Linked DNA regions of Homo sapiens. The protein of the gene in region 1 purifies or fractionates together with the protein of each later gene. This does not show direct contact. Each region holds a gene or a part of one and is shown on either strand. Other genes may lie near its edges.

The links. The genes of interacting proteins can lie anywhere in the genome.
Region 2: the proteins of MTARC1 (region 1) and RAB6C fractionate together in Homo sapiens (co-fractionation; one large-scale study listed by BioGRID). This does not show direct contact.

The regions. Positions count from the first base shown.
Region 1 is NC_000001.11:220,800,413-220,803,912, forward strand, and holds part of MTARC1 (mitochondrial amidoxime-reducing component 1 precursor), read left to right. Parts: intron 1-3,500. UniProt on the Homo sapiens protein: Catalyzes the reduction of N-oxygenated molecules, acting as a counterpart of cytochrome P450 and flavin-containing monooxygenases in metabolic cycles.
Region 2 is NC_000002.12:129,978,413-129,982,465, reverse strand, and holds the start of RAB6C (ras-related protein Rab-6C), read right to left. Parts: upstream 2,801-4,053; 5' UTR 2,351-2,800; coding exon 1,586-2,350; 3' UTR 1-1,585.

The DNA of each region.
Region 1 (3,500 bases):
AGTGAAAAGTCACAGCACAGTGAGATATGGCCAGGAGGGTGGCGAGCAGCCAGACGTGGGGACGTGACTAACACCTGCATTGTGGGGTGAGCTGAAGCATGGGGCACCCAGGGCTCTGGTCTCAAACCCTTTCTCATTTGTCTGCACTCACTTTTCTGATCTGTTCTTTCTTTCCTTTTTTTTTTTTATTTAATCATCTGTTTTTAAGACCTTCTCTGCCCTGAGGACCCCTAACTATATCCTTCTGCCAGAGCTTTCCCCTGCTTCTCCATATCTCCATGTGGATGTCTAATCCAACGTCAGGATGTCTGAAATTGAGGGTCAGGTATCCACCCCAAAGCCTGCTGTGCTGTCTCGCCCATCTCAGCACACAACAGCTCTGACTTCCGCTGGCTCAGGCCCCAAACTGCGAACCACCCCTTGTTCTTCTCTTTCTCTCACATCCTAGGTTCCTACAGTTGACAGATCTTGGTGGCTGGGCCTTCCCCCCCACTCCCCTCTCTGCCCGGATGCAGTCACCACTGGTGCTGCAGCAGCCTGGCTTCACTGGCCTCCTTGCCCCACCCTTGACCCAGCCCTGCACCATCCATGGGCTGTTCTCAGCACATCCATCAAGGTAACCCTGTTGATGTAAGTCACATCATGTGATTTGTCTGCTCAAAGCCCTCTCATGGTTCTCCACCTTTCTTCAAGTAAAAGATGGGATCCTTATGGATTGCCTGGAAGGCCCAACATGACCTGCACCCCGCCAGCTCCCAGCCCCTTCTCCTCTCACTCCCCTCTGCTCTCTTACTCTGCCCCAGCCATACTGGCCTTTTTTCTGGGCCCCAGCTGTGTCCTCTGCCTGGCATATCTTCCCTCACAGGCCTCATGGCTCACTCCAGTGCCTCTTTCAGTCCCCTGCTGCGGGCTTCACTGACCCCGCTCACCCAGCCCCCCCCACAGCACACACCCCACCTAACAAGCCGTGTGTACTCAGGTATCAGTGTATTGTCTGTTTCCCCTATGCAAGCTCCTTGAGGACAGGGGCTGCTGTATCTCCAGCCCCTAGGAGAGCCCCTGGTACATAGAAGGTGTGCACTAATTATCTGTTAAATGAATGACCTGGACAAAGTATTGTCCAGGAGAAAGGGGGGCACTGAGGGAGGGGTACATACACAGGGCTATGAAGGTATGAGAGAATGGCCATCTTGCAGTGCTGGGGCTCAGGAGAGGAGGGGAGCTGAGAGCACAGGTACTTGGTGTCAGGTTTTGGGGAGTCTGGGAAGAATTTTTGGCCAGGGAGTGACTGAATCCGATTTGCATGATACACATTTGCCTCTGCCAGGAGCCTGGAGAAGGATTAGCGCAGGCGGGGCCAGGGTGCAGCTGGGAGAGCAGGCTAGCATGGAGGAAGGCCGAGGACCTGCATGGAAGTTTCTGGAAAGCAGACCCACTCCTCATCTCGGAAGCTACCTTCTCAGCAACTGTGGCTTTTCGCTGCCTCCCTTCATCATCGGCACTCCCCACACACATTTCTTACACCTCACTTCTCCCTGAAGCCACAGTAGAGACAACCACCCTACCTGCCACAGTCAGTGACCGTTTCTCAGTCACCACCACCCCGCTCTGAGGACACATGGACACTACTTACTGAAACGTTTCTCCTTTAGCTGTACTGCCCTTGCTTCTCTGCTGTTTGTCCTCATCCCTTACTTCCAAAAGTTCTGGCCTTGACCCTTTTCTCTCCCCTCCTTGGTGATCACACTGTCTCCTGCAGCATCGCCCTCTGTCACCTGACATAGGTCCCTCAAATGTCCACCCAGGACTCCCTCTGGAGTGCTGCACCACAGTTCCAACTCTTTGTTGGTTGACAGAGAAACTCAGACTTATGTGCTCCCACCCCAGCCCCTACACCCTCACCCCACCTCCCTAAACTCATTCTTTCTTTCTTTTTTGAAACAGAGTCTTGCTCTGTCACCTAGGCCAGAGTGCGCTGGCATGATCTCAGCTCACTGCAACCTCCGCCTCCCGGATTCAAGCGATTCTCCTGCCTCAGCCTCTTGAGTAGCTGGGATTACAGGCAGACGCCACCATGCCTGGCTAGTTTTTGTATTTTTAGTATAGACAGGGTTTTGCCATGTTGGCCAGGCTGGTCTCGAACTCCTAACCTCAGGTGATCCACCCGCCTTGGCCTCCCAAAGTGCTGGGATAACAGGCATGAGCCACTGCGCCTGGCCCCCAAACTCCTTCTGTTGACTTCACAGTTTCTATCCAGGGCAGCATGTTTTTTTCTTTCACCCAGGCTCAGAGCGTGACAGTCGGCCCTGGCTCCTCCCTCTGCTGTGTTCCTCCCAGCCCCAGCCATGTCGGCTCCCCTTTCTATCCTTAGCCACCAGCCAGATCCTACGTTTGTTACTTTAAGTTTGGACCACTGAGTGCTCCCTCCTGAATGTTGCCACAGCCAAGCCTCCTAGAGCTGATCAGCGTGATCTCTCCCGCTCTAAAAGTTTGTAACAAATCATCAGTGTTGCTGACTTGCTCAGAAGCCTTTAGTGGCTCTCCATGTCACAAAGGTCCAAACTTCCCACTCAATCATTACATTCCTCTGTAACCTTGCCACAGTCTGCTTTTCCAGCCTTTATTACCAACTGTATTAGTTTATTTTCATAGTGCTATGAAGAAATACCCGAGACTGGGTAATTTATAAAGAAAAAGAGGCTTAATGGACTCACAGTTCCACATGGCTGTGGAGCCCTCACAATCATGGCAGAAGGTGAAGGAGAAGCAAAGGCACGTCTTACATGGTGGCAGGCAAGAGAGTGCGTGCAGGGGAACTGCCCTTTATAAAACCATCAGATCTCATGAGATTTATTCACTATCACAAAAAAAGCATGGGAAAGACCCGCCCCCATGATTCAATTACCTCCAACTGGGTCCCTCCCATGACACATGGGGATTATGGGAGCTACAATTCAAGATGAGATTTGGGTGGAGACACAGCCAAACCATATCACGAACGAAAGCTCCAAACTGCAAACTGGTGTCTCCTGGTCACTGAGAATCTTACTCCCTTCCCTACTTAAAACTCTTGACATTCTCTAAAAGCCTGGATTAAAAGCCCCCTCCCCTGGGAAGCCTGCTCTGATTGCTGGACCTCAAAGCGCTCCCTCCCTTCTCTGAAGCTACCGTGTGCTCTGAGCCTCTCCCATACCAGGCTTGTCCTGTTTGAACTGGTCACCTCCAGGTGCTGTAGGAAGACTTTCCTGGGCTCATCAGTGCTTATGACTCAATCTCCAGTAGTTTTTTTTTTGGAATAGAAGGGGCTCTGGAAGTATTTCTTTAATTAATAATAACTTAATTTCCTAAGTGGAACCCTTATTTCTCTCCTTTTATACCCTTTTTATGTGTTTTTTTGTGACCATAGTGCCCCCTTGTGGAGAAATGTTCACAGGACAGGCTGTGGCTGTGCTAATCCGCTGTGCCCAGTTTTCTGGACTGTTGAAAATATGTGCTTGAGA
Region 2 (4,053 bases), on another chromosome or scaffold:
AGGTTTTGTTGCAATGAGGGGATGAGGAAGTATGAAGATACTTTTGTTGTCTTTTCATCTTTATACTGTGTTAAGTAACGTTTACAACATAAATTCAGCAGGCTTTTCCTGACCTGTAACTCGAAGTTTTCTTCCTGCAAACAATGTATTTACAAATGTGTTTATTAGCTTACACAGCAATCTCACAATAACTAGTAAAGATTAAAAGGGCACACTCCTAGTATATTTGTTTGCAGTGTTTTAAGGGAAATACATATTGCCATGGTGAAGCTCTAAATAGATTCAACGAAACATCTAAAAATGGAAAGTTGTTAAAAAAAAAAAAAGCAAAGAAATATCGCCAAAGAAAAAATATTAATCGTAGCTTAAATATAAAACTAAATCACTAGTTAAACTATACAGATCTAATACAAACCAAAACCAGCCTGAAAGACCCAACCTTAAAAAATGCTAAAAAATAAGGCATAAATCTGCATAATATTCAGTTTTATTTCCATTCTCTCCTTTCCCTCTACTATGTATGCTTTACCTGATCTGCCTCTAGGGGCTTACAAGAAAACGGTTTCCGGTTTCCGTCTTCCGTCTTCCGTCTTCAATTTGACCTCAAATGTCCTGAGCAAAGTTTTTGCTATTCTGCTGAGGGTTCTTTTGCTGGTAAGCTTTAGATATCGTTATTTCTGCTAATTCAGTAGTTTTGATCGTAGTGCCAAATTTAAATTCTTCCACTGGTTCTTCTGTAAGGAATTAAACTTTTATGGTGTCTTGCCTGCATAGTATTATTTTTTTAAGAAAGAAAACCCAAGCAAAATCTATTGCTTACAGAGGTTTCTTACTTTTTAAACAAACAGAATAACTCTTGACAATTTTAAAACCTTGGGAGAAATAGTTCATTAGAACTTCATTATCTTACCATGAAGAAGTAAATACTAAAAACCTGTTCTGAAGCACTTGGTTACTTTTCTCTCCCAGAGTCTAATAAAGCACATGTGAAAGGACCATTTGTGTTAGTCAGAAATACATTTTATGTTCTGCTACTTATAAGTACTCAGTATGTTCTTTAGGACTCATTTTGAAGATGCACCAGGAGGCTTTTCTCATTCAAGCACTGCCTACCGTGATCGCTGAATTCTGACCTCAAAGAAGATCTAAGTAATTTACATCAGTGCTCAAGAATAATTCTGGACATCTTGGTCCACAGCCTACAGCAAGTGGTATCTGTAAAATTAAAGGATAATTCCAGTGGGCTTGGTCGGACTGCTGCTTTGCCATCTCTTGTTTGTTTTGAGGAAGTGGGGGGAGGCTAGGTAAGAACACGGAAATAGGGAACGGGGTAAGGGAGAGGTGAGAAGAGCAAGGAGAGATAAAGCAGGCTGTGAACATACTGCTCGTTAACCAAGCCATACTCATACTGTTGAGATTTCCATCATTTTGAAGTACATTATCATAACATTAAAAAAGAAAAAAATGTTAAGAAAATGTATCTAATTTTTAAAGTTATCACCGGAATATGCTGAAATAATTTGGCTTTTTGTAAAATATAAATAATGAAGACGCTGACTTTTTTTGTGCTTGTGAAGCTAATAGATCACCTCCACGAGACAGGCAGCAATGATGAATTGCAAAACGTTATTAATGAAGGGAAAAGGTTCAAGCCAATATTCACACTGCAGTCAATGAAAGAGTAAGGGGGCTTCTGAGGAAGGGTTGAAGATGACATGGGAGAGTAGCAGGAACAACCCCCTTCGCTGACTGTTTGCTCCTGAGGCTTTTCCAGTTTTATGTCACTCATGTCTTCTCTGCTTCCGTCCTGTGTGCTTTCCATTCCCGGCAAAGCTGCTGCTACACGTCGAAAGAGCTGCTTTACATTGTATCCAGCTTTTGCCCTAGTTTCAATAAACGTAACATTCAGCCCTTTGGCTTTCCTCTCTCCCTCCTCAACTGACACTTGCCTCTTGTCAGCAAGATCTGTTCTATTTCCTACTAGCGTGATGATAACATCACTTCCTCTTTCTGTTCTGACATCATCAATCCACTTTGTAGTTTGCTGGAATGAGTTAACATTTGTGATATCGTAAACTACTACAGCTGCAGCAGAATCACGGATGTACCTGGGAATGAGGCTACGGAGACGTTCCTGACCCGCCGTATCCCACAGCCGAAGCCCGATTGTTCCATCCTCCAAGTACATAGTTTTTGATAAAAAGTCAATGCCAATTATTGCCTGATAGGTGTTGTCAAAACTGTCATACCTGAATCTGGTGATCAAAGATGTCTTTGCAACGCTTTGCTCCCCCAGGAACACCAGCTTGAATTTCCTCAGCGGATTCCCGAAGTCTCCGCCCGCGGACATGGTGGAACTAGAGGAGCTGTCGCCGCCTCAGCCCAGAGACCTCCCGGACCGATGCTCCTCCAGCCGGCTGACGAAAAAGGCGAGCGGAAGGGCGGGCGCCGAGCTCTCTGCGCCCCTGCAAGGGCCGGTGGAGGAGCCCGGCTGGAGGAGCCCGGCTGGAGGGCAGCAGGGCTCGCCACAGACTGGCAGCCGCCGCCGCCTCCCGGCAGAGTAGCCGAGCACGGAGCGAGGCCCGCGGCTGGGAAGGGAAGGAGGGCGGTGTCGGCAGGAGCCAGGGGTGTGCTTTGGCTTCCCAAGGCTAGGGCCGTTCCCTCCTTCCGCACCCGGCTCAGAGACCTGCGGGAGAGAGACGGAGGGTGGCGGAGCCCAAACCGCAGATGTATCCGGGATCTCTCACGCGCGGCGCTTCGGCTTCCCCAGCCGCCGCCGCCGCAGCCCAACCTGCTGAGTGCGCGAGCCTCTGGCGCAGGGCGAGCCAGGGCGCCTCAACACAGTTTTTTAAATACACAAAACATATGTACTAAAAACAATGGTGCGGTGAAAACAAAATAATGCAAACTAGAAAAAGGACAAAATTGACATTTTAAAAACTTTATTATGTATTATTAAATATATATTAAATAGAAATGTTATAAAATTTAACGTCCCTATCTCCCCGTCTCTGTGAGAGGTCAGAAACCTAACTTTTCTAAGCCACAATTAAGCAAACACATCTGGCCTAATCACATGGACCAACATCTCTCCTAACATCAGGCAGGAAGTTTCAGTAGCTCCTGCAAAACTCTCCCACCTTGCATTTGAACAGAAATGTCAACTGATACAATTACCCAAGACTTGTATTAGACTGAATCTCACAATCACACTCAGCCTGATTATTAACCCTTCTCCTGCATCTTGCTCACCTAAATGTATCTACATTTTCTATGAACTGAAGAGCTTAGAAATGTATGTCGTCCATGTATTATAGTGTAAGTTATTGTAATATAGAAATATGGATTTTCTTTAACTCCCATTTTCTGCCTAGGAAATAGCAATGTTTTTTGAGTATGGCAAGTGTTTCCAAGCATTCAGAAGTGGAGAGTGTAGGATATCCACTGCAAAATGAGGTCTGCTTGTCATCCTCTTAGTCTCCACTGCTATCCCTCCCTCATCTCTCTCTGTTTCATTGGTGAGTATGGAAGATCAGTCACTTTTATATGAAATGAAAATTGATGAAACTAAGGTGTTGATTTGATTATCCAAGCAACCATTTATTGAGTGTTCATTACAAGTCAAATTGTGTTCTGGAGAACAGCTCAGGAAATGAATGTTTGACATCGATGTACATAACAGAAATACGAACATACCATTAAAAACTCAGACCTCTTATGACAATCCAGATTCTCATGTAAGTTTTGTGAAGCTCTTTCAAGATGAAAATGTAACAATTCAAAAAAAATTATTTAAACAAGTCATTCTTGAGACATAAAAATGGAATTAGAAGATCATATATGGCTGTTTCACTAGCTGAAATCTAAAGTACTGTTTTTAGTCAATTAACGGCCATATAATTGTTAGTTTTATATACTGATATTCATCAGAAATTAAAAACTTTAAAAAGTATTTCTGTCTCATTCTACTAATTTTAAAATTTCATTTATTTGGTTATATTTCTTCATTTTACCTGGCCTTGAATACTTCTTTCCTGCCCAGCATTAAGTTTA